7 linked regions of the Homo sapiens genome follow. The protein of the gene in region 6 purifies or fractionates together with the protein of the main gene of each other region. This does not show direct contact. Each region holds a gene or a part of one and is shown on either strand. Other genes may lie near its edges. The genes, in order: LRRFIP1, ZC3HC1, ANG, RELB, DDX23, PFKL and MAP3K8.

Region 1 (3,500 bases), on a different chromosome or scaffold from region 6:
CTGGAGGAAGTGGCATTTTGAGTTCTTGAAGGCTGTATGTACCAGTCAAGATGCTTTGGCTGCTGGGACAGAAACCCTGACTGGACTGACATTGACAAGGGGAAGTATATTGGCTGGAGCACAGCAAGCCCGGAGGCAGGGCAGGATTCCCCGCCAGCCTCACCAGTGGCTCCGGCCTCTTTTTCCCACAGCACCTGCGCAGCTGGTTGGGCTGGGCCATCCTCTGTGGGTGGCCTCATCCTCAGGCTGACTTGCTTCATGGAGGCCAGCTGGCCTTGGCTTTCCCGGGCTGCCACTGTGGAGCCCACACACCGTCTCTTCTGGTGGCTCTCTCCAGAGAGCTAGCAGTATCTCCCTGGTAAACTTTCATGAGTCTGTCTGGCCACTCCTGCACCAAGCTCTTTGACAAGGACCATGGACTTAGGGGCTCAGTGCCTGTGGCAAAGGGGGGTGGGTCTACCCTGTGACCTGTCAGACTCATCCTGGGACTGGGGAGAGCCGGCCTCCCTGAAACACTTGGGAAGGTGGGGGCCTGAATGGAAACTGGGGAGGCTTCAAGGAAGTGGGAGGGAGTGGGCTGCCACTTGGGCCTGGCACCCAAGAACATGCCTTCTGGAGAGTAAGTGGAAAATTCTGGGCTGAGGTCATTGGGAAGCCTGAGTCACCTGGCAGGGACGTGGGTTCCAGTTCGCTGGAGCGAGGGGAAGAGCTAGGCTGCCCTGTGCAGGCAGGGCTTTGCACTCTTCTGGGTAGAAGCAGGACTCGTGGTGGGGGCAGCCTTTGGAGGGTGCATTTCTGCTTCTGCAGCCGGTGTCCTGCTTCCATGTGATGGTTTAAACTCTAGGCAAGCGTGTATAGTAAAGGGAGTTATTTGCAAATGCTGTATTATCGCAAGTCAATTATTTCTCACTCTCTTGTTGCAGTGGAATTCAGGCGGGATGTTATCAGGAGAAAGGTTTAGTACGCACTTGCAGAAGCTCATTAGCACCAAAGGCATGAGCTGCGCCTCCCACTTCTGGGGAGGGGTGTTTCCAACGCAGATAGATTTTCCTCTCCTACCGCATTTCACATTCTACTGGTGCATTTTGGTAGCATCCCAAACTTCTCATTCAGCACTCTGCAGCTGAGTAAAGCGATACTGGTCTCACCATGCAATTCAAAGTATTGCTCTCAAATGAAGAATGTTTTTCCCAACAGGAACAGTCATTTGCGCAGGCTGCATTAGGAACTCACCGTGGGGCCTTGAGACAGTGCGGTGAGCTTATTATCCCCTGGTGGTGCCATAGGTACCCCTTCCTCACCCAGCAGGACGGAGGCCCTCCCCCCATAACTGTTTCTGCAGCCTCCTCTCCAAGCTGGCCCCTCTGTGGCCTGCGGCCTCGGGCCCTGATCCATGGCAGGGGCACTGCTGCCCCACCCGGCTGCTTCACCGGCCCCAAGTTGACTCGTGGGCCTGCGGGTGCTGTTGGTTCAGGCCTCACAGCCACCGCCTTTCACTTGAGCCACGGCCACACAGGAGTCCAGTTGCGGAGAAGGGGTCGCACTGCCCCCAAGGAGTCCAGTTGTGGAGAAGGGGTCACACTGCCCCCAAGGAGTCCAGTTGTGGAGAAGGGGTCACACAGCCCCCAAGGACTCCAGTTGTGGAGAAGGGGTTGCATTGCCCCCAAGGCAGCCTGCAGCCATCAAGTAACCATTTTGTGAGGTCACAAAATGTCCCCCAGGCTTGTTTCAAGATGCAACCAATTCTGTGGTACGTTTCCTGCTCCGGAGCTCTCTGCGGGCCAGGCTGAGGCCAACTCCTGCCGAGACCACCTCCCTCCCCAGCCCTTCCCTGACTGGCCTGCCCCCCTCATGCCCCTGCTGGGACAGGGCTCACATCCAGTCCTGCCATGGGCTCTGCTTCTGGAACCCAACATAAAGCCATGCCCCTTGTTTCAGGTAGTTCGTAAATATCGGGTCTTTTCATCCTAAGTCCCCCTTTCATTCATCTTTTCTCCCTGTCCTTCCCAAATAGCCCTCCTATATCAACCTGTGCGGAGGGAGCCTGTCTCTCTTCTCCTCAAGGCTGTTGGAGAACCAAGCTGGGGATGGGGTGCACGTGTTCTTTTCCAGAACAGCCCAGAAGTGGGGTTCAGTGTGGAAACTTCGCTCTACCTCTCTCCAGCACTAACCTGACCTGGCTCCTCTGGGGTGGAGAGTCCAGGACTGAGCCCAGCTGCAAAGATGCAAATCTGGGTCCCCAATGCAGTCCCTTGCCCTCTGGTGAGGTGACCCTGGGGCCAGAATTCACCTGCACGCAACCAAGATGTCAGACTTGTCCCTAGGCCTATTTCACTTGATTTGAAAGTGAATTTCATGACTTTTTTCTCTATGAATTTGCTTTTCTGAGGCTGGCCAGCAGATTGCACACCAACTGAGTGCTGCTGGACACTGGTTTGCCATTGGGGCTGGGCCCTGCCCCTTTGTTCCACAGGAGTTGGGAGAGGTGAGGGGCGTTCAGTGCCCGGCAGGACACAGGACTGTCCAGCCTGAACAACATCCTGCCTCCAGTTGGAACCCAGCCGCAGTGGAGTCACTGAGGGCTGTTCTGCAGCTGATTCTCCTAAGCCAAACACCCATCTTGGCAGATCGTCTACAAGGTTTTAGGAATGTGACAAGACTGGTGTTCCAGACGGATTTTTACCAACAGTCTGAGCTGTTGGAGGGCGTGAACAATGTGCCTGTGACCTTGGGCTGTTTGTGCGATTCCCAAAAGATGCTTCTGGGTTTCTGAGTCCACAGAAAACTCAGCTGTGGACAGGCCTGCTGGTCCCCAACGGCCCTGGGCCCCACCCCACAGCTATTTCTGTCAGAGGGCCAGCTGTCTCCCTTCTTCCTTTTCTGGGTGACTCTTGAGCCACTCGTTGGCCTGGTACTCAGGGTTGGGATGTGTGTGTGGAGAACATGACCTGGCTTCTAGCCCTGCCTGTCCCCCGTGAGCCCTGCCCGTCCCCAGTGAGTGTGAGACGGGAAAGGAGAGAGGGGCGAATGGAGGTTGCTTCTAAGACCCAAGGTGTGCCAGGTACTCTGGAAGCTTTACTCCCATAGTTTGTTTAAATCCTGTGAAAAGAGTTCCGAGTCTCTCTGTTTGACAGAGAGAAAACAGACTCAGAGACACCATGGGACATGGCTGAGGCCACCTATTAATTAGGGGCTGCCAGTTCATGGCCCAGGCTGCTTCCTGGATCAGCCCCTCAGCTCCCTCCAAGACCCCATTCAGGCTATGTCCTGCAGGCAAGCCACCTTCTTCCTATCCCTGGCACATGTCGTCCCCCACTGACCTGTGAACCACCAGGGGTGACATTTCAGGAGAGAGAGTCCCATATCTGTCTCTGCCTTACTGTATCTCTCATCTTCTTTTTCCATCCTTTCATCTTTAAAAAATTGATTTTTATTTCATCAGAGTAATATATGTTTTTACCCATATTCTCAGGCCGTTCCCCACACAGTAGGCTGGGCAG
Region 2 (3,500 bases), on a different chromosome or scaffold from region 6:
AACTAGGAAAATTGTCTCAAAAGAAAAATAAAATAAAATAAAACAAAACAAAACAAAATTAGCCAGGTGTGGTGGTGCTCACTTGTAATCCCAGCTACTCAGGAGTCTGAGGCAGGAGAATAGCTTGAACCTAGGAGGCAGAGTTTGCAGTGAGTCGAGATCGCGCCACTGCATTCCAGCCTTGGCAGCAGAGCAAGACTCCGTGTCAAAAAAAAAAAAAAAAAAAAAAAACAACTAGGAAAGGGTCCACTTCCAAACTCAGTCATTGGCATACTGTTGGCAGGATTCATTTACTTGTGTCTGTTGGACAGAGGGCTTCAGTTCTATACTGGCCATTGGCCAGAGATGTCCCTCCCCACTTGGTTCCTTGCTATGTGGGCTTCTCTAAAGGAAAGTTCACAACTTGGCAGCTGACTTCCATCAGAGTGAGCAAAGGAGAGAACAAGATACAAGCCAGCCTCATTTTGTAATCTAATCTCAAAAGTGACATCTCATCATTTTTGTCATATTTTATGCATTAGAAGCAAGTCACTAGGCCAGCCCATACTCAAGAGGAGCAGATAACACAAGGGCATGAATATAAGAAGGCAGGGATCATTGGAGCCACCTTAAAAGCTGTTCACATCACCTTGCTTTGAGAGAAGTCTTTAGTAGCTCCAGCTGCTTTTTTTTCCTGCCAAGTTTGCACCCCTACCCGTGTGTGTGTGTGTGTGTGTGTGTGTGTGTGTGTGTGTGTAGACAAAGTCTTGCTATGTTGCCCAGGCAGGTCTCGAACTCCTGGCCTCAAGCAATTATGCTGCCACAGCCTCCCAGAGGGTTGGGAGTACAGGCCTGAGCCGCCAAACCTGGCCCCGAATTTCTGTCTTATAAACTATTAACAAGGTCTTGACCTAGGAATCAAAAATTAACAAAATCTCAGAATTTAAGACCATAAAATAAGCCAAATCACACACCTTTTTTTGATCAAGAAACTAATACTGGCTAGGCATGGTGGCTTACGCCTGTAATCCTAGCACTTTAGGAGGCCAAGGTGGGCGGATCACCTGAGGTCAGGAGTTTGAGAGCAACCTGGCCAATATGGTGAAACCCTGACGCTACTAAAAATACAAAATTAGGCCGGGCGTGGTGGCTTACACCTGTAATCCAAGCACTTTGGTTTGCTGAGGCAAGTGGATTACGAGGTCAAGAGTTTGAGACCAGCCTGGCCAACATGGTGAAACCCTGTCTCTACTAAAAATACAAAAATTAACCAGGCATGGTGGCACATGCTTGTAGTCCCAGTGACTCGGGAGGCTGAGGCAGGAGGATTGCTTGAACCTGGGAGGCGGAGGTTGCAGTGAGCCGAGATCATGCCACTGCACTCCAGCCTGGGCGACAGGAATGAGACTCCATCTCAAAAAGAAAAAAAAGAATGCACAGTTAGCTGGGTGTGGTGGCATGCGCCTGTAATCCCAGCTACTCAGGAGGCTGAGGCAGGAGAAATTGCTTGAACCTGGGAGGCAGAGGTTGCAGTGAGCCGAGACCATGCCACTGCACTGCAGCCTGGGTGGCAGAGAAGACTCCGTCTCAAAAAAAAACTTATACTGGAATATTACCCAAATGAAAAAGTAAGCACATACCAGCTATCACATTGCATGTTTCACGAAGAGACATTAAACGTTATGTCATAAGTTTATTTAGAAACATACCTAGTGTGCTATATGCCTGACTTCAAGAATTTGATCCATTGTTTTGTTTCCTTTTTTCCCTTCAACTTTTTTTTTTTTTTGAGATGGAGTCTCATTCTGTCATCTAGGCTGGAGTACAGTGGTGCCATCTTGGCTCACTGTAACCTCCACCTCCTGGGTTTAAGCAATTCTCCTGCCTCAGCCTCCCAAGTAGCTGAGATTACAGGCGCCCGCCACCATGCCTGGCTAATTTTTTGTATTTTAGTAGAGATGGGGTTTCACTGTGTTGCCCAGGCTGGTCTCAAACTTTTGAGCTCAGGCAATCCTCCTGCCTTGGCCTCCCAAAGTGCCAAGATTACAGGCATGAGCCACCATGCCTGGCCTTTTTTTCTTCAACTTTTATCTTCAGTTCCGGGGTACATGTGTAGGATGTGCGGGTTTGTTACATAGGTAAACGTGTGCCATGGTGGTTTACTGCACAGATCAATCCATTGCCTAGGTATTAAGCCCAGCATCTGTTAGCTATTCCTCCTGATGCTTTCCCTCCCCCAACTCCCACCTCCAACAGGCCCCAGTGTATGTCGTTCCCCTCATGTGTCCATGTGTTCTCATCATTCAGCTCCCACTTATAAGTGAGAACATGTGTTTGGTTTTCTGTTCCTGTGTTAGTTTGCTGAGGATAGTGGCTTCCAGCTTCATCCACATCCCTGCAAAGGACATGATCTCGTTCCTTTTATGGCTGCATAGTATCAAAGAGATTGTGAGCTCAAACATCCATCTTAAGCCGTTGATGTCTTTTTTTTTTTTTTTTTTTTTTGAGATGGAGTCTTACTCTGCCACCCAGGCTGGAGTGCACTGGTGTGATCTTGGCTTACTGCAACCTCTGCCTCCCGGGTTCAAGCGATTCTCCTGCCTCAGCCTCCCAAGTACCTGGGATTACAGGCTCCCACCACCATTCCTGGCTAGTTTTTGTATTTTTAGTTTCACCATGTTGGCCAGGCTGGTCTCAAACTCCTGAAATCAGGTGATCCACCCACCTCAGCCTCCCAAAGTGCTGGGATTACAGGCGTGAGCCACTGCACCTGGCCCAGTTGATGTCTTATAAAGGAAAGTGCAGCAAATGAGATCCAAAGTACAAGTCATCATAATTAGTAATTGCCACTTGTTTTCCACTGAAAATGGCAAATTCTTCTCTGGGCTGTCATTTTGTCTCCTATAGACCATAGAGGTTGTGAAGCTGAGGATACTCTACTCCAACATGGCCAACATGGTACTGATGGGTAGCTCTGTGAAAGGAGCAGAGACTGAAGGCGGAAGAAATGTGGTACCACACCACGTCTTCTGCTTTTCACTACTTTATTCCCTGTGTGCAAGGACAGAAAGACTTACATGGTAATTTTTTACAGTGATTCTTAAAAATTTTTAAATTACAGACTTACAGAAAGGTTGCAGAGATTACAAAGAACCTTTTTTCCCTGAGCTATTTGAAAGTAAGCCACCAAAGTGATGTCTTACTACTCCCAAATATTTCCTACAAACAAGGACTTTGTCCTACATAACCAGAATGCAACCATCAAAATCAGAAAATTGACATTGATAAATTACTACCCTCCAATCCTCAGACCCCAGTTTTTCCATCAGTTATACTAATAACATTCTTTATAGTTGAAGTATCCAGTTGAGAATCACACAGTACATTTAGTTGTCATGTTGCTTTATTCTCCTTTAATCTGGAACATTTCCTCAGTTTTTTCTTGAATTTCATGATCTTGATACTTTTGAAGATTACAGAACAGTTATGTTGTAGAGTGTATGTCAATGACATTTGTTTGA
Region 3 (2,920 bases), on a different chromosome or scaffold from region 6:
GATCAACATACCATACTTTCCTTCACAGAGAGGTAAAGTCTACCTCCCTAATGACTTGTAAAAACTGACTGATAAGGAAAAAGTGGCCCGGCTCAGTGGCTCATGCCTGTAATCCCAGCACTTTGAGAGGCCAAGGTGGGCGGATCTCCCGAGGTCAGGAGTTCAAGACCAACCTGGCCAAAACGGTGAAACCCTGTCTCTACTAAAAACACAAAAATTAGCCAGGTGTGGTGGTGCATGCCTGTAATCTCAGCTATTTGGGAGGCTGAGGCAGGAGAATCACTTGAACCCAGGAGAGAGAGGTTGCAGTGAGCCGAGATTGTGCCATTGCACTTAAGCCTGGGCGACAGAGTGAGACTCCATCTCAAAAAAAAAAAAAAAAAAAACGAAAAGAAAAGAAAAAGGCATTTCTATCCTATGCAGTCCTCTCAGGGAGCAGCCAAGTAGAGAAAATGGGGGAAAGATCAATATGCCCAGAATCAGTGAGAAGACTCTGATTCTTACTGATATCAAGACATTTTTATTTATTAAACATGTTGTCAAACAGAAAACAAAAGGTCCAGGTAGCTCTTTCTTTGGGCCCTTGGCAATGAATGTTGCCACCACTGTTCTGGGTGCAGAGGGGAAATGGAAGGCAAGGACAGCAGAGCCAGCACTTGACCAGGGGCCCGCTGGTTACGGACGACGGAAAATTGACTGATCCAAGTGGACAGGTAAGCCATTTTCACAAGCAACAACAACGTTTCTGAACCCCGCTGTGGCTCGGTACTGGCATGGAGGCCAGGGGGAACCTCCATGTAGCTTGCAAGTGGTGACCTGGAAAGAAGACTTGCTTATTCTTAGGTTTTCTCTGTGAGGGTTTCCATTCTTGTTTTCACAGATGGCCTTGATGCTGCGCTTGTTGCCATGAATAAATGTGTTGATGTCTTTGCAGGGTGAGGTCAGGCCCCGTCTCCTCATGATGCTTTCACAGTATCTGTCATCCCGGCCCTGTGGTTTGGCATCATAGTGCTGGGTCAGGAAGTGTGTGTACCTGGAGTTATCCTGAGCCAGGGTCGGTGGGGTCAGACCCAGACCCAGCACGAAGACCAACAACAAAACGCCCAGGCCCATCACCATCTCTTCCAACACAGGCTCCTGCGGAGGGCAAAAGGAGGTGTGGTAGACCCAAGAACAGCATCACCAAATTAGGCCAAAAGGACAGGAGCTTTGCTCTCTGACACGGCATCATGAATCAGATCTTTTCCACCACCAAATTTTATATTCTATTTTCCCTTCCTCATTAACCTCACACTTCGTCAATCCCTTCCTGCGGAACGTCTATTTAATAGTTTCCTGAGCACAACCTCTAGCTCCAACCGTTCTTCCCCATCCCTTAGAATCACTGAGTATTTCTCTATCAGTCGTAACATTACAAAATCCACTCTCACTCTTTAATTCATGTATTTATTAATTGAATAATGAACATTACATAGGTCTCTACTGGGTACCAGGGACTGTGCTAGGTCCTGAGGCACATTAAGACATACCAAATGACGGCCGGGCGCGGTGGCTCACGCCTGTAATCCCAGCACTTTGGGAGGCCAAGGCGGGCGGATCACGAGGTCAGGAGATCGAGACCATCCTGGCTACCACGGTGAAACCCCGTCTCTACTAAAAATACAAAAAATTAGCCGGGCGTAGTGGCGGGCGCCTGTAGTCCCAGCTACTCGGGAGGCTGAGGCAGGAGAATGGCGTGAACCCGGGAGGCGGAGCTTGCAGTGAGCCGAGATCGCGCCACTGCACTCCAGCCTTGGCGACAGAGCGAGACTCCGTCTCGGAAAAAAATAAAAACAAAAAATAAAAAAATGCCTCCCTAATAGGAAATGAGGCATCCATGGGGAAAAGATGGGGGCTTCAATGTACTGAGATGAGATAGTAATACAGGAGGTGAGAGCTAAGAAGAGAGTTTTAGGGGAGTGGTCTCTAACATTTTTGGCACCAGGGATCATTTTTGTGGAAGACAGTATTTCTATGGATTGGTGGGGGATGGTTTCAGGATGAAATTGTTCTGGTTCAGATAGATCATCAAGCATTAGTTAGATTCTCATAAAGAGTGCACAATCTGGATCCCGCACATGCGCAGTTCACAATAGGCGTCCAGCTCCTATGAGAATCTAATGCTGCCTGCTGATCTGGCAGGAGGCAGAGCTTAGGCGGACAGGCCACAGACCGGGATTTGGGGACCTCTGTTCTAGGGAACCCTGAGCCCAGGGAAGGAGTCAACCATAAAATTGTTTACGACAGGCTTCTAGCTAATTAGTCAGCTAATGTGAAGAAAGCAGTTGAAAGCAGTTGTATCCTGAGTTGAAGGGAAGCAGACCTACCTCCCCAAGAAGTAGGTGGTTCTTGTTCGTTTATGAGTAACTCACTGAATTTATGACTGGCTATGATTTCTTGGTAGTCATCACACATACTGAGAAATTCTCACAAAGGGAGAAAAATCTGATCTTCAAATTGTATTGCATTCTTAAGTGTAATACAATTCTTATGACCCCAAATGTAAAAATAAATGGTACATTTTCAAAGACATTAAATTAATTATTAATTTTTTATTTTGTGCTTCTCTTGTGTGTAAGTCAATGAACATTTTCGTATCAAATAGTTCTGTAGCCCTTGCAGGAAGCACCAATGTTGTACAAGTTGTGGGGATATTGCTGTTCACAGAAGGGAGTCTGAGCTTAAAAAAAGGCCATGGGTCCTGGCACTAGGCCTGTGGTGTGGCTAGCCTGTTCTGAGAGCAAGACTGTGGATCTAGAAAGACACAGGACCCCAATGTTCTATGGTTACATGGGAAGACGTGACTGGGTGAGCAAAGTGGGCTCTCTTTCTAATTTGCATTTGGTGTTGATTCCATTACAAATTATAATCTATGAACTTA
Region 4 (3,995 bases), on a different chromosome or scaffold from region 6:
TAATAGATCACCTAGTCGTTCTCAGGAATATGAGAGGCTTAGGAATGTGATCTAGCCAAATGGCTGCCCCTCTTTCAGCCTGAGTCCCTTCTGCAATAATCCTATCATATGCTTCTGGCGCTGGTGATAGGGATGAGCTCAGGGTTTAGGCACACAGCTCAGGATGTATACGGAGGCTACACTGCTGCCATTCGCAGACTGAATAACTGAGCTTTTGAGCTCAAAGTGGTCTGGGCTATTTATGGGTAACTTTCAGGGGCTGCAGGGAGGAACAAACCAATAAATAAAACATCCATGCATTCATCCAATAAACTTTTTTTTTTTTGAGATGGGAGTCTCGCTCTGTTGCCCAGGCTGGAGTGCAGTGGCACGATCTCAGCTCACTGCAACCTCCGCCTCCCAGGTTCAAGCTATTCTCCTGCCTCAGCCTCCGGAGTAGCTGGCATTACAGGCGCACACCAACACGCCCAGCTAATTTTTGTATTTTTAGTAGAGATGGGATTTCACCATGTCGGTCAGGCTGGTCTCGAAATCCTGACCTCGTGATGTGCCTGCCTCGGCCTCCCAAAGTGCTGAGATTACAGGCATGAACCACCGCGCCCGGCCTCCAATAAACATTTATTGGGCACCTACGGTGTTCCAGGCGCTGGTCTAGGCGTTGGGGTTACAACAACGCACAAAACATAAATTCTGAAGCTGACACGCTAGCTTTAAACGTTCCTTAAATATCTTCATCCTCAATTTACGGTTGAGGAAACTGAGGTGTAGCGAGACCTTGGAGGTTTCCGAAATATTATTATGGATGGCAGGTGTAGAGCCCTGCCAACCTCTCGATCCTGAAGCTCCCCTTCCAGCCTGAGAAACGGCAGGTTCAAGTCCCACTGGGAGACCAAAGCGGGGAGCGGCTCAGTTTGCCGGCTTGCTCAATGGGTAAGGCGTGATGGCTCTAAGCAGGCCTCAGTTGTCTCGTCCAGAGCAATGGGCAGCGACGCCTGCCCAACCCCTCCTGAGCGCCCAGCCTCCCTTTCCCGGCCGGCCCCGCCCCCGCGATCACGTGACGCGTGGGGGTTTTCCCGTTCCCCAGGCGTGACGTCACGGCGGGGTGCAGACCAATGGGCGCGCAGGCCGGCGGCGCCGGGGAATTCCGCCGCCCCGCCCCCGCCCGCCGCCCGCCCGGCCCGGCCCCGCGCCCCGCGCAGCCCCGGGCGCCGCGCGTCCTGCCCGGCCTGCGGCCCCAGCCCTTGCGCCGCTCGTCCGACCCGCGATCGTCCACCAGACCGTGCCTCCCGGCCGCCCGGCCGGCCCGCGTGCATGCTTCGGTCTGGGCCAGCCTCTGGGCCGTCCGTCCCCACTGGCCGGGCCATGCCGAGTCGCCGCGTCGCCAGACCGCCGGCTGCGCCGGAGCTGGGGGCCTTAGGTAAGCGGGGCTGGGGTTCAGGAGAGGGGTCTGGGGCGGGGCTGGAGATGCGGGGATTCTGGCGGTCCCGGAGTAGTCTGGGGGTTCCTATGGGAGTCTAAGGGTTTCGCGGGGGCAGAGTGAGGGTTCCTGAGACACTGTATTAGGGCGTAGGAAGAAGGCAGAGGGTGATGAGGGGGTACGGCCCGAGGTTCGAGCGAGGCGTCCCGCTGTAGAGTGAGAGGGGGCGGGGCCTGACCCTGAGGCAAAGAAGGGGGCGTGGCCTGACTCAGAGAAGGCGGAGCGAAAGCTGCTCTTGGGCGGTATCGGGGCGGGGCCGGGCCCAGAGAGGGAGAAGAGGGGCGGGATCCGACCCGGACTATGAGAAGAGGGCCGGGCCTGACTCAAAAAAGGAAGCAGGGCCCTACGCTGAGGGGTGAGGGGGCGGGGCCTGGCCGTGAGGGCAGGAAGGGGGCGGGGCCTGAGTTGGCCGAAAGAAGGGGAAGGGGCGGGGCCTGACTCTGGCCGAGTGGAGGGGAAGGGCCTGTTACCCAAAAAAGCAGGGCGGGGCCCGACACAGAGAATGAGGAGGGGGTGGGGCTTGCCTCCAGACGGAGAAGCGGAGCCTTGACATTGAAAAAATTAAAAGTGGTCTGACCCTGACAGGAGGATGTTTTTTTTTGTTTGTTTTTTGTTTTTTTCTTTTGAGATGGAGTCTCGCTCTGTCGCCCAGGCTGGAGTGCAGTGGCACGATCTAGGCTCACTGCAACCTCTGCCTCCCGGGCTCAAGCAGTTCTCCTGCCTCAGCCCCCCGAGTAGCTGGAATTACAGGTGCCCGCCACCACACCCGGCTAATTTTTGTAGTTTTACTAGAGACGGGGTTTCACCATGCTGGTCAGACTGGCCTCGAACTTCTGACCTCAGGTGATCCGCACGCCTCGGCCTCTCAAAGTGCTGGGATTACAGGTGTGAGCCCTTGTGCCCAGCGGGATGGGGACTTTTTAAACTGAGATTGAGATGGGGTCCCCTCCAGGCCCAACTTTAAGGGAGAAAAGGAGCGGGCCCTGAGTGTGATGAAGGGTGGGGCGAACCACAGAAACTAAAGGCCAGGACCTGTCCATGATTTAGCTGGTAAGCCTGGCCAGACGCAGGGGGGCAGTCAGGGCGAGGGGCCTGATCCAGAGGGGAAGGGCTAGAAGAGGAAGGGGTGGGGCTTCCTTGGGATATTCTCTGGTCCTCTGGCTGCCCCCCATCACCTCCTGAGACGTTTCTCCTTCTCTGCAGGGTCCCCCGACCTCTCCTCACTCTCGCTCGCCGTTTCCAGGAGCACAGGTGAGCAGCCCTCCACAGTTCCTGCCCACTCGCTCATGCAGGATGAGGTTGGGAGGACTCCACAGAGATGTCTCTGTTTGGGGGTTCACGAGGTCCACCTCAGCTTTCTCCTGACAGGGTGCATCCCTCCCTGCCAGTTGAGATGGGCCCCCTAGGTTTTCTTACCTCTTGGACTGTTAAGAGCGTGACAGGTGGCCGGGCGCGGTGGCTCACGCCTGTAGTCCCAGCACTTTGGGAGGCCGAGGCGGACGGATCACGAGGTCAGGAGATCGAGACCATCCTGGCTAACACGGTGAAACCCCGTCTCTACTGAAAATACAAAAACAAAATTAGCCGGGCGTGGTGGCGGGCTCCTGTAGTCCCAGCTACTCGGGAGGCTGAGGCAGGAGAATGGCGTGAACCTGGGAGGCGGAGCTTGCAGTGAGCCGAGATCGCACCACTGCACTCCAGCCTGGGAGACAGAGCGAGACTCCGACTCAAAAAAAAAAAAAAAAAAAAAAAAAGCGTGACAGGTAAATCTTACCACCTATCCATGCGCAAAGGCTTCTTTAGAGATTCACTGTGGCTTAGTAGAAGGTAATCACTGCCATCCTGGGCTTTGGAGCTGGGGTTTACATACTGCTGTCATCGCCCCTCCCTGTGTGAATGTCTGCAAGTCAGTTCCCCAGTTCAGGCCTCAGTTTTCCTCATCTGTAAGATGGACAGAATAACAGTGCCTCTCTTTCAGGGAAATTGAGAGTATTCAATGAATTGATACAGGTACACTTTCCAAGCAGTATCTGGCACACAGTAAGGGTTCAGTAAGTGTTAACTGTTAGTGGTATAATAATAATAACGATAATAATTATTATTACTAGACAGTCTATAACAGTGGTTCATTTTTGGTGTGTGTGTGGGTTTTTTTTGTCTGTTTTTTGTGTTTTTTTTTTTTTTTTTTTTTTTTTTGAGACAGAGTCTCGCTGTGTCACCCAGGCTGGAGTACATTGATGCGATTTTGACTCACTGCAATCTCCACCTCCCGGGTTCAGCAATTCTCCTGCCTCAGCCTCCTGAGTAGCTGGGATTACAGGCACCCGCCACCACAACCCACTTTGTGTCTTTAGTAGAGATGGGGTTTCACCATGTTGGCCAGGCTGGTCTTGAACTCCTGACCTCAGGTAATCCGCCCGCCTCAGCCTCCCAAAGTGCTGGGATTACAGGTGTGAGCCACCTCGCCTGGCCAGACAGTGGTTCTTTTTTTTTTGAGACGGAGTTTCATTCCTGTTGC
Region 5 (2,954 bases), on a different chromosome or scaffold from region 6:
TGTTTTTCTCCTCTTCCTTCCAGGAAAAAGCTGCTGGCAATCTTGGAGCAAGGCTTTGACCCACCCATCATTATTTTTGTCAACCAGAAGAAGGGCTGCGACGTGTTGGCCAAATCCCTGGAGAAGATGGGGGTGTGTCTGGCAGGGGAGAACAAAGTCTAGCCTCTGTGGCACTGCTTTCTGAATCTAGCAGGGCCCCCTAGGCTCTTCCTTTCAAGTCTCACCCTTTCTTTAGCCTGTCCAGCAATCAACAAGTTAGGACCAGGGTGAAGGGTGGTTTGAGGGAATAAAGAGAATGGAATCAATTGCTGGGACCCCCTGTCTGCTGCAGTAATGCCAGCCAAAGCTGCCTTGGGTCTTCATCCTGGTGAGGTGGAGCCAGGGAAAGGTTTGAGACCCATATCCTGGCAGTCTGAGGATGTAGAAAAGAGTAGGTGAAAACTGCTTAGGTACGTTGAGAGGAGGTGATATGGTCAGAAGGGAGCTGATAATCAGTGTCCTTTACTCCTGTCACTGGTGCTTGAGGGGAGGGGTGTGTCCCTGTCACTCAGCTCTCCAACTTCCTTAAACTTCTTGATCCCTGCTTTCTACCCTGATCTCGCCCCTAATTCTCTTTGAGGACTTTTCATCTGTCTGGCTCCACCGCTCTCCCAGCTGTTTTGCCTTTGACCTTACTCTGTGTGTCCCTGCCACACCACACCTTTTTCTCTCATCCCTCTCTTCAGCTCACTTGTTCTCTCCTTCTTTCACTGCAATCATTCTCTTGTTTCCTTTCCTTTCTCGTACTCTGCTGCTCTCTCCAACCCTCCCTTCATCTGTGTCCCATTCCTCTGAACTCCTGTGTCTCTCCTTGATTGCATTGCTCACTCTTCACTTCACCATTCTTCCAACAGTACAATGCTTGCACACTGCACGGTGGAAAAGGCCAGGAGCAGCGAGAGTTTGCGTTGTCCAACCTCAAGGCTGGGGCCAAGGATATTTTGGTGGCTACAGATGTGGCTGGTCGTGGTATTGACATCCAAGATGTGTCTATGGTTGTCAACTATGATATGGCCAAAAATATTGAAGGTAAGTTCCAGGGAAAGCAGCTTCAATCCAGGGTGAAGTCAGATTCCTTATGGTGTCCCACTGGAAGTCAGGGTGCTGTCCATGGAAGGCTGTTACTGCCTCCCTCAGTTCCAAGTCTGGGATTGCTTGCTCCCATGAGAAGCACTCCTGTCCTTTATCTTACCTGGGTTTGTTGTCCCAGCAGCTGGGATGACACTTGTGTCCTCAGGAGTGTGAAGAATGAAGCTAGGCAGCTGTGGGTCTTAGTGTGGTAGGGACCACAGTCAGTAGGAGGACAGGGGAGATGGGCACCTGGAGAGGGCACTGTGGGCGCCTCAGGTTCAGGCAGCATGTGCTGTATTCCTGCCTTTGGAGATGGGGTGGGAAGGATGCCTCTAGAAGTGGAGGCATCAGACACGGCTCCCCAGGGCATCTGGGCTATGCTGAGTGACGTTCTTCCCATTCCCCAGATTACATCCACCGCATTGGCCGCACGGGACGAGCAGGCAAGAGTGGGGTGGCCATCACCTTCCTCACAAAAGAGGACTCTGCTGTGTTCTACGAGCTGAAGCAAGCTATCCTGGAAAGCCCAGTGTCTTCCTGTCCCCCCGAACTAGCCAACCACCCAGATGCCCAGCATAAGCCAGGCACCATCCTCACCAAGAAGCGCCGGGAAGAGACCATCTTTGCCTGACACAGCACTCTTCCTGTGGGCTGAGGGCATCTCCAAAGCTGCCTGATGCCTGTTTTTCAGAACCCTCACATCCCTCTTTCCAGGTCCTCACTCTTGGGATATGGGGGCTTAGGAAAACAATCCAACTCCCTAGCCCAGACCCTCAGGTCAGGAGGCCTGCGTGTGGGGCTGCAAAAGGAGAGGACGACGCTGTCGGAGGCAGGGAGAGCAAATTACCACAGCTTCTTGGCCCAGTTCTGCCCTTCTTTGCTTTGGGATTGCACTGGGCCATCAGCTCATGCCAGGCTATGGGGGCAGCCAGTTGGCATTGCTCCCCAGACTGAACAGAAACCTGGCCGCCGGATGGGACCTCCTTTGGCACAGACTTGACTGTGTAACTGCATAAACTGCAGTAGCATCATTGCCCTAGATGCCCCAGGAGACCTGGCACCATGAGGATTACAGACAGTGGAATCTTACTGTCATCTGGACAGCTGTTTTCCTGTTTGGATGGTAAAGGAAGTTGAGAGTCTTTAGACCTGTGCACAGCCCCGCACCAAGGGGTGCTGTATGCTCTAGGCATCCCCTCCCCCAGGGGATTTTCTAAGTAGATGGGGGGACACGGTGAACTGGCTGTGTCCATCTTTGTCACTGAGTGAAATCTCTGTTTTCTATTCTCTGAGAAGATAAGTTTGTATGTTCTGAGAATAAATACATGAATATTAAGACTGTTAGATCTAGTTCTAGTTAAACTTCCCAGCTTCTCCCTGGCAGGAGGGACACCACTGGGTGCGGGGTGGGTTGGCTTGGAAAATGAGAGACAGCCACATTAAGAGAAGAGTAGAGGGGTCTCTGCTGATAGTCTTGAGTCTGTAGGTGGACTTGAGAGGAGATGCAGAAGCCACGCAGGACTGTAATGCATCTTCCGCCCCTGCTCTAGCCTCGCGTAATGTGTGGCCCTGGCCTGGACACCCTCTAGGGAGCTTTAGGCAAAGGTGAGAAAGGAAAGCAGTTGTGAAATTTTGGCAGGTGAGGCAGTTGGAACCACTCTGCCGCTGTGTGCCCAACGCCTGGTCTCGGGAGCTTTGCTTGTGGCTCCCTAGTTGGACCCATTGCTCCTGGGAGGGGATGGTGCAGAACGGGTGGACCCAGCTGTATCAGGCTGTGGTGAGAGGAACGCAGGGCTGCAGTCCTCCCCCCATACCCCTCTTGTTCACATGCTCTTCTTACCCCA
Region 6 (3,821 bases):
AGGCCCGGGTGAAGGGGCTCAGCTCCCTGCCATAGCCACTTCCAGGTCCAGGGGGGCCCTGCGTTGTTCCTCGCTACTGTGATGAGCTCAGATGGGGAGACTGAGGCGGGAATGTCCCTGCGCCCCAGTGCTGGGTAGTCTAAGAGCAGCGCCTGGCCTCTGTCCAAGGGTGCCAGGGACACCCCTGCCCACTCACAGCCAGTGTGTGTGCAGGCTGCTGTCCACTGTGCCCTGGGGGGTGGGGTCGCCTGGTTGAGAACCCCTGGTCCTGTGGGGCCCAGGTGGGAGGTGGGCCCAAGCCTGGTGCTGCTGGCTGTCTGGGTGCGTCAGCCCCAGGCTGGCTTTGGAGACACAGGGCTCCCTGCAGGGTAGCCATGCCGACGGCCTACAGGGAAGGGTGGGCACGTGGAGGACCCCCGACCCCCCCTTGTCCCCCAGAGCTGTGACCGCATCAAACAGTCTGCCTCGGGGACCAAGCGCCGTGTGTTCATCGTGGAGACCATGGGGGGTTACTGTGGCTACCTGGCCACCGTGACTGGCATTGCTGTGGGGGCCGACGCCGCCTACGTCTTCGAGGACCCTTTCAACATCCACGACTTAAAGGTGAGCCCAGCCCAGCCCCTGCTGCGGCAGACCTGCCGGCATGCCAGCCTGGGCCCCAGACACTCAGGCCGGCCAGCGCAGGGCAGGGCCCGGGCAGGTGGGACGCGTAGCCCAGTGCTCCTGCTGGCCCCGGATCGCCGGTCAGCCTGGAATTCCCTCCCCACAGTCCTCCGGCTCATCCGTGTCCGCCCCTCCCGCAGGTCAACGTGGAGCACATGACGGAGAAGATGAAGACAGACATTCAGAGGGGCCTGGTGCTGCGGTGAGGCTGCCGTGGGTCCCTGGCCACAGCTGCGCGTCCAACTCTCGGGGCTGGGGTGGGGCTGCTGAGGAGCGGCTGGGCAGGAGAAGGCAGGAGGGGTCCTTGGAGAGGGTGGGCCAGGGCGGCTTTCCTGGGAGCTGCCACTCCCTCTCCCAGGCCTGGCCCAGCGGGGACTCAGGATCGGGGGGAGACCTGAACTCGTTCCCGCCGACTCAGGCCCTGCTGCCCCTCTCAGGAACGAGAAGTGCCATGACTACTACACCACGGAGTTCCTGTACAACCTGTACTCATCAGAGGGCAAGGGCGTCTTCGACTGCAGGACCAATGTCCTGGGCCACCTGCAGCAGGTGTGGGGCAGGGGTGAGGCTCTGAGAGGCCTGCCCCTCTTTCCTGCCACCATCTGTCCCCGGCCCCAGGGGTCCCAGCCCTCACGGGCACCCACGGGCACTCCCGGCAGGCCCTCGGGCACGTGTGCCCTTCCCCAGTGAGGGGACCGAGGCCTGTATCTAGGTGAGGTCTCATTTCAAGAAGGGGTGGGGCTGGGGCTGGAGCCGGGGCCCGAGCCAGGGCATTCACATGCTGAGCCGAGCTCCCCACCCCTGCCAGGCCTCCCGCGGCCACTTCCGCCGAACCCCTCACCTAGATCCCCGCATGCTCCCTGCCTTATGGTGGCCCTGCAGGAAGCCCGCGTCCTGGGGTTTTCTGAGCCAGGGAGGGGAGTCAGGGTGGCTGGGCATGGGGCCCGAGGTGATGGGGCCCGAGGTGGGGCCGCTGGCTGCCGATGCAGGGCCCAGGAGTCACTTGACTTGGCCAGGGGCAGCCGACTGCCGGCCTCGGGAGGCAGCTTCTGGCCTGGACTTGGAGCTGGAGAGAGCAGGCAGGGTCCTCGATCGGGAACAGACGGGAACGGTGCACGGGTTGGAAGGAATGGGTGTTCACAAGCTGCCTGGGAGGCTCCCCGTGGGGATCCTGTCTGCACTGGCGTTGGCCTTGGCCCAGGCAGCCCAGGGGAGTCCAGGGAACCGGGCCTCACCTGTTTCCAGGGTGGCGCTCCAACCCCCTTTGACCGGAACTATGGGACCAAGCTGGGGGTGAAGGCCATGCTGTGGTTGTCGGAGAAGCTGCGCGAGGTTTACCGCAAGGGTAGGTGGTGGGTGCGACCCGAGGCCTCACTTTGCCCTCCCCTGGCTCCCTGGGGCAGGGCCTCACCATGGAGGGCTGCCACGTGCCTCTGTTTGCAGGACGGGTGTTCGCCAATGCCCCAGACTCGGCCTGCGTGATCGGCCTGAAGAAGAAGGCGGTGGCCTTCAGCCCCGTCACTGAGCTCAAGAAAGACACTGATTTCGAGTGAGTTCCACCAAAGCCTCGTGGAGGCGGGTGGGGCTGAGGGGTGGCCCAGACCTTCCCTGAGGCAGGTGTGCCAGGCCCAGCCCCACTGGCACCCTGACCCCGCAAGGCCTCCTGGGCCCCCATGCCCAGGTCCCCGCCAGGCCGTGGAGAGCAGGGACCATGCCCAAGTCTTCTGAGCACAACACTGGGCAATCCTTTCGGGTGGGCATGGGGGCACAGCGGGTAGCCAGGAGTGGGCACGCTTGAGGGCGGCTGAGGCTGACTCTGTGCTGTGCCTCCGAGGGATGGGGACCCCAGACCTGTCCCAGCTCCACGGATACCGAGATGTTCAGACAGAGGGGCATGCACAGGCTGCAGGGTCGGGGGGGGTGGGGGGGCTGGGGACGTGGCTGAAGAGCTGCCCTGACCCCTGACTCCCCATCATCCTCCCATCCCCGTCCTGCACAGGCACCGCATGCCACGGGAGCAGTGGTGGCTGAGCCTGCGGCTCATGCTGAAGATGCTGGCACAATACCGCATCAGTATGGCCGCCTACGTGTCAGGGGAGCTGGAGCACGTGACCCGCCGCACCCTGAGCATGGACAAGGGCTTCTGAGGCCAGCCATGCCCACGCCCCTCCCCAGCCCCCACCCATGCCAGCGCAGCGCCAGGGCTCAGATGGGGCCTGGGCTGTTGTGTCTGGAGCCTGCAGGCAGGTGGGGGCTGCGTCCCTGCTCAGCCCATCCCCTGCCTCTATCCCTGGCCACCTGCCAGGCCTCCCTCGGGCTGGTGTCTTGAGACCAGCCTGCCAGGCCCTCCAGCAGGAGGACAGAGTGCCCTGGGGCATCCACCTTCCTGCCCAGGGGACGTGGCGCTGTCGGTGTTTGGAGGCTGCTGCCCCCTGGCTTTGGCGCCCCATGGGCCCTCAGCGTCTCCCCATGCTGGGCTCACTACATGGGCCAGCCCTTGCTCTACCTGGCCGGTAGGCTGCTGGCGCCTAGGTTGTGTTGAGAGGGGGATGCCCCTGGCCCTGCCTCACTGTGACCTGCTCCTGCCCACGTGCAGCACCTGTCACCTTTTCTAGAAATAAAATCACCCTGACTGTGGGGTGCATCGGTCTCCGGAGAGCACAGCCTGCAGAACTCCTCAGAGAGAGGGGGGAGCAGCACCGAGCGGCCAGCCCAGTGGGCAGCAGCCCCAGGGGTGGAGGGCCCTCTGGCCAGTGCCTGGGCCAGGTCAAAGGGACATGTGCCCTGAGAGGCCACAGGTGCTCTCCAGGACTCCCTGGGGGCCACCAGGGTGACCTGAGCCCCTCCTGGTCCTCCCCTGGGGGCAGAAGGGTACAGCCTCACTCCTCTGTCTCCCCAACCTCAGCCTGAGTGGGGGTCTCCAACCTGCAGGCTGGTGGCTGGCTTGAGCCAGTATCCAGGAGACATTGATGGTGGACACGCAAGAGGGGAAAAGAAGGCAGCGCAGAGCTGCGCCCACCAGGGGCTAGGGCTGAGTCCTGCAGGCGGCTACGGGGTGGTGGACGCCCTGCTTGCAGGATGCCTGTTAACCTCAGCGTCGAAGCCTGCGCTCTGCATCATGAACGTGGGAGGTGCTTGCCCAAGAGGGCTGCTTCCTG
Region 7 (4,240 bases), on a different chromosome or scaffold from region 6:
GGTAGCTATGTTGCCCAGGCTGGTCTCCAACTCCTGACCTCAAGTGATCCTCCCGCCTCGGCCTCCAAAGCGCTGGGATTACAGGCGTGCGCAACCGCGCGGAGGCAATCTAGAAACTGCAGAGGGAGCACGGACCTGGGCACTGGGAAGAATAGGGCGTGGACTTGGAGTGTGACCGCGTTTGAATCTGGGTTGTGCCTGGGACACCCCACCTCCTGGGCCGTAGGTGGGGGGGGAGAGAGAGAGAGAGAGAGAGAGAGAGAGAGGATGTCGACCTTACATGGCTCCTAGCTCTCCGCGCTCTAGCCGAATGCCTGGTTCCTAGTGGGTGCTTGATACGTGGGAAATGTAGGGGGAGGGGGTGGCGGGGCATTGGGAATGTCCCGCAGAGTGGATTTCGGGAGAGTGGCGCTTTTCTCTAGAACTCTCTTCCGGTTACACCTGGAGTAAAAGCTTGACACTCTAGAAGGAAAACCCCAGATGAGCAGCTAGGACTGAGGGTTAGCGGTAGGCGGGAGCGGGGAGATAGTACAAGTACGCTTCCTAATGAGGCGGTGCCGCAAAATAACCAATTTTAATAAAGACTGCAGAGAAGAAAACCAGGTTCTGCTGGCGGAGTGCACAGGCTCCCAGCCGAGCGCCCAACAACCAGGTTCCGGGCCCACCCTGCCGCAGCCTCTTGGAAATCTCTAAGTTGGAATGTGTGCGTGCGCACCACGGGTCACTGCCCTCTTTGTGTGTGAATTTGAAGCGAAATCTGGGCGAGGCGGGGCCGTGCTACTAGCAATCGGACCCACAGTCGCGGTTCCAAGAAGCCCCGAAGCTTCCCCGGCTTCCCGCAGCACTGCTGGGAGGGCACACGGCGCCTCTGTCCCCACCCCAGAGCGTGGGGCGCGCGGAAAAAGGTCTGGTGACTGCCCTCCCCGCCGCCCCCCGGGAGCGTGCCCTCCCGCCGGACCCTGGGACTCCAGAGAAGCGCCGAGGGCGCGAGTACACTAAGATATACGACCTTCCCTGGGGACCGGGAAGGGCACAACCACCTCTTGCAACTCCGCCACTAAGACGCCTTGGGTCACCAGGCCCGGGGGAAAACTCGTCCCCGTCCCAGGCTCTCGATTCGGGCCGCAGCTCACGTCCCGCGCTCCTCCCTGCGCGCCGCTCTGCTCCTCCCTAGTCCCGCCTCCAGCTCCGCCCGGGCGCCCAGAGGGCAAATGAGGGGCGGCGGGGTGGCGGGTGGGGGGGAGACGCGGAATTTCCCAGCGCGGGGGCTCTGGCTTACCCTGCAACCGGGCAGTCTCTTTCTGTTTACGGAGAGAAAGGGGAAATGGAAAAGTCGGGGAGGCGGTGGCTGGCGTCCGCTGCGCCGCCCCTGGGCAGGCTCAGACGCCGTGAGTCAGGGGCAGAGCAGGGCGGTCTGAGCGTGCGGGCGACGCGGGTCTCACTCGTCCGCTCCGCTCTGGACTGCGCGCCACGCTCTGGGGTCCGGCGCCCTGGTTCCTGCTTCTGCCGCTGCCGCCGCCGGATCCCAGTGGCCCGGCGTGCTCGGCTCCCACAGGCCTGCAGCCAGCATCGCACCGAACCTTCGGGGGGCCGCGGCTGGAGCGCTCGGCCGGCGTGGGAGCGCCAAGGCCGCAGGTAATCCAGGGTTGGGGGTCTCCGGCGTGTCTTTCGGGTCGCGTCCCGCCTGGGTGCCCCGGGGATTCCCATGCAGAAATGGAGGGTGCCCCCAGCAGAGGGGAAAACTCTGGCGTGGGAAGAGGTGGGGGCGTGCCCACAGCTGCGCTCGCGGGTCGCCGGCTGCACCAGGCACAGCTGGAAAGCACCTTGCGCAAGGGTCTCACGGGGTGCAGACTCGCGACTCCTCCCCCTTCCTCCTCCTTCCCGTATCCGCAGCGCCAGGGCAGTGCTGGTCTGGGCAGTGCGCGGGGAAGCGGGGACCCGCTGTCACTGCGCCTCCCGCTGCCGACGCCGCCTGGACGGCCGCACTCTCCCTGCCCGAGACCCGGTGAGTGCAGCTCGGAGGCTGGAGGACCCGATCCTCCCAAATGCTGGGTGCTTTGATAATTTATAAGCCTTTTAGGCTCCCTTGACTTAGAGAACCAGGAGGAAAGGAGTGGGAGTGTGGGTTGGCGGAGCCCAGAGACTTGTGAATGGCTGGAACTAAATTCAAGTTTGTAACCCGGACTCTATCCCATGACTAAAGAGGTCATAGCAGAACACGAAGGCTGGGCTTTTGGTCTAAGAAAGAATACTAGGAGAAAAAAAAAGTTATTTTCACGGAAGTTGTTTTCGAGCGATAGTGCATGATCAGGACTCTGAAATTTTTCTAGCTCTGGGCGGAGAAGGACGCCTAGGGATTGTCTCCATAGTTAACAGGGGAAGGCCACCGGCTGCCTGTAAGAGAGAAACGTTGCGATGCTTGTCTATTTCACTTTTGGGAAGACAAGATTAAAGGCTGCTCTTGATAAAAAACAGGGACAGAAAGGCTCTTGCAGTTGCTTTACATACCTGTGGCCTGAGTCGTTTGTGCCAAGGAGAGTGTAATCCACTTCCAGCTGACGCCCCCAGCTCTCTGCGACGGATTGAGGTTTGTGTGCAGGACGTCTGGCATACGGCCCATGAGGACTTTGTCGTGTAAAGCAAATGGGAACGTTGAGGCATGTAGAGGTTTTGAAGCAGAGTGTCGGTCCTTCCTTCCATACGCCTGAAACGCATAATCCGGGGCTTTTTGAGAGCAAAAACATAGTCAGAAATGTGCCCTGAGGGAGAATGTACTATTTTGGCACACATATGTATATATGTATATATAATTTTTAAATTTTTTTTGAGAGGGGGTTTCACTCTTGTCGCCCAGGCTGGAGCGCAATGGCGCGATCTCGGCTCACTGCAACCTCCACCTCCCGGGTTCAAGCGATTCTCTTGCCTCAGCCTCCCGAGTAGCTGGGATTACAGGCGCCCGCCGCCACGCCCGGCTAATTTTTGTAGAGACAGGGTTTCACCATGTTGGCCAGGCTGGTCTTGAACTCCTGACCTCAGGTGATGCACCCTCCTTGGCCTCCCAAAGTGCTGAGATTACAGGCATGAGCCACTGTGCCCGGCCTAAAAAAATATTTTAAATGAGAAATAACACAAGTAATAGTCATTCTTTGTTAGGCAGAAGCATATGCTGTTATGCTGGCCATTTTCATTCACACTTGCCAGGAAACACTCACATTTTGTTTCTGTATATGGAGGCAGCCAAGAGTATTATGTTAATGTTTAGGAAGAGAATTTCCTCGTGATTTTATTGCTGATTTCTGAAATAATTCAGTGTAACTAATTTTGACTGTATTTGCACATCTCTCCAATTCCAAAAGCTGGCATAATTTTCTGTTTGGTTAGGAAGTAGGAATTTTATGAGGACTTTTATTGTAAACTGTGTCAAGGGAAAAATCATCTTATACTAAACGTCTTTATTGCCAAACTAGAATACCTTCACAATCTGAACTTTCTCTAGATGGGCACAGATCATGAATAACTCAGAAACCATTAGCATATTGTGTGCTTAATTAAGGCTGGAAAGTGCTGAGGCTTTTTGCAGGCGCAGTTAGCAGGCGAACTGGTCAGCAGGGTTTCTGGGGAACGTAGATTTGCGTGACAGGGGCCCTGTGTTGCTAAGGAATTACTGCAGGCACTGAGAAAAGTCTCAGCGTCAGACACTCCTCCACCTCCCGGGTCCTGCTTCCCTCCCTCTCCCCTTTCCAGGCAACTCACAGTTTAGGGGTGTGGTTGTGTGTGTTCAAGCTCTTGGGTTTTACATATAAATGCCTGAGACTTTTCTGCAGGGTTTAAAAACTAACATCTTGTCTTACAGCTCTTTTAGGATTTGTCTTTTAGAATCTCCAGTCCTCACAGGAAAACCCCCCAATTAAAAAAATAAAAGAATAAAGAATAAAAAGAATACCACTACTACTATAAAAAAAAAAAAAATCCTCTAAAATTTGTCTTCCCAGATCAGCAGAGTGAATTTGAACTGTGTGGACTTTTTTCCTCTTTCTTTCTTGAGTCATGTTAGTACTGAGAACTTTTTTTTTTTCTGTCAAATCATCTGTTTGATAAATAAGTCCAGGAGACTTGGATCCTTTCAACCCCTGAGGCCCTAAATTAGGCTGTTTTTTTTTTAACCTCTGTGTTTCCAGTAAATTCGACAAGCAGAAACTGCAACTAAACGGCTCAGTAAAACCGAAGTCAAATGTTCCTC

What was found.
Region 1: the proteins of PFKL (region 6) and LRRFIP1 purify together in Homo sapiens (affinity purification with mass spectrometry; one large-scale study listed by BioGRID and IntAct). This does not show direct contact.
Region 2: the proteins of PFKL (region 6) and ZC3HC1 fractionate together in Homo sapiens (co-fractionation; one large-scale study listed by BioGRID). This does not show direct contact.
Region 3: the proteins of PFKL (region 6) and ANG purify together in Homo sapiens (co-immunoprecipitation; one large-scale study listed by IntAct). This does not show direct contact.
Region 4: the proteins of PFKL (region 6) and RELB purify together in Homo sapiens (tandem affinity purification; one large-scale study listed by IntAct). This does not show direct contact.
Region 5: the proteins of PFKL (region 6) and DDX23 fractionate together in Homo sapiens (co-fractionation; one large-scale study listed by BioGRID). This does not show direct contact.
Region 7: the proteins of PFKL (region 6) and MAP3K8 purify together in Homo sapiens (tandem affinity purification; one large-scale study listed by IntAct). This does not show direct contact.

The regions. Positions count from the first base shown.
Region 1 is NC_000002.12:237,630,587-237,634,086, forward strand, and holds part of LRRFIP1 (leucine-rich repeat flightless-interacting protein 1), read left to right. Parts: intron 1-3,500.
Region 2 is NC_000007.14:130,044,875-130,048,374, reverse strand, and holds part of ZC3HC1 (zinc finger C3HC-type protein 1), read left to right. Parts: intron 1-2,465; exon of another isoform or gene 2,466-3,500. UniProt on the Homo sapiens protein: Required for proper positioning of a substantial amount of TPR at the nuclear basket (NB) through interaction with TPR.
Region 3 is NC_000014.9:20,691,764-20,694,683, reverse strand, and holds the end of ANG (angiogenin precursor), read right to left. Parts: intron 1,654-2,920; exon of another isoform or gene 1,530-1,653; intron 1,205-1,529; exon of another isoform or gene 1,138-1,204; 5' UTR 1,120-1,137; coding exon 676-1,119; 3' UTR 501-675; downstream 1-500. UniProt on the Homo sapiens protein: Secreted ribonuclease that can either promote or restrict cell proliferation of target cells, depending on the context. Endocytosed in target cells via its receptor PLXNB2 and translocates to the cytoplasm or nucleus.
Region 4 is NC_000019.10:45,000,269-45,004,263, forward strand, and holds the start of RELB (transcription factor RelB), read left to right. Parts: upstream 1-1,195; 5' UTR 1,196-1,311; coding exon 1,312-1,417; intron 1,418-2,680; coding exon 2,681-2,728; intron 2,729-3,995.
Region 5 is NC_000012.12:48,829,256-48,832,209, reverse strand, and holds the end of DDX23 (probable ATP-dependent RNA helicase DDX23), read left to right. Parts: intron 1-23; coding exon 24-132; intron 133-893; coding exon 894-1,068; intron 1,069-1,517; coding exon 1,518-1,741; 3' UTR 1,742-2,454; downstream 2,455-2,954. UniProt on the Homo sapiens protein: Involved in pre-mRNA splicing and its phosphorylated form (by SRPK2) is required for spliceosomal B complex formation.
Region 6 is NC_000021.9:44,324,053-44,327,873, forward strand, and holds the end of PFKL (ATP-dependent 6-phosphofructokinase, liver type), read left to right. Parts: intron 1-438; coding exon 439-603; intron 604-803; coding exon 804-865; intron 866-1,100; coding exon 1,101-1,212; intron 1,213-1,908; coding exon 1,909-2,008; intron 2,009-2,106; coding exon 2,107-2,212; intron 2,213-2,662; coding exon 2,663-2,810; 3' UTR 2,811-3,321; downstream 3,322-3,821. UniProt on the Homo sapiens protein: Catalyzes the phosphorylation of D-fructose 6-phosphate to fructose 1,6-bisphosphate by ATP, the first committing step of glycolysis.
Region 7 is NC_000010.11:30,432,744-30,436,983, forward strand, and holds the start of MAP3K8 (mitogen-activated protein kinase kinase kinase 8), read left to right. Parts: upstream 1-1,440; 5' UTR 1,441-1,635; intron 1,636-1,893; exon of another isoform or gene 1,894-2,005; intron 2,006-3,829; exon of another isoform or gene 3,830-4,240.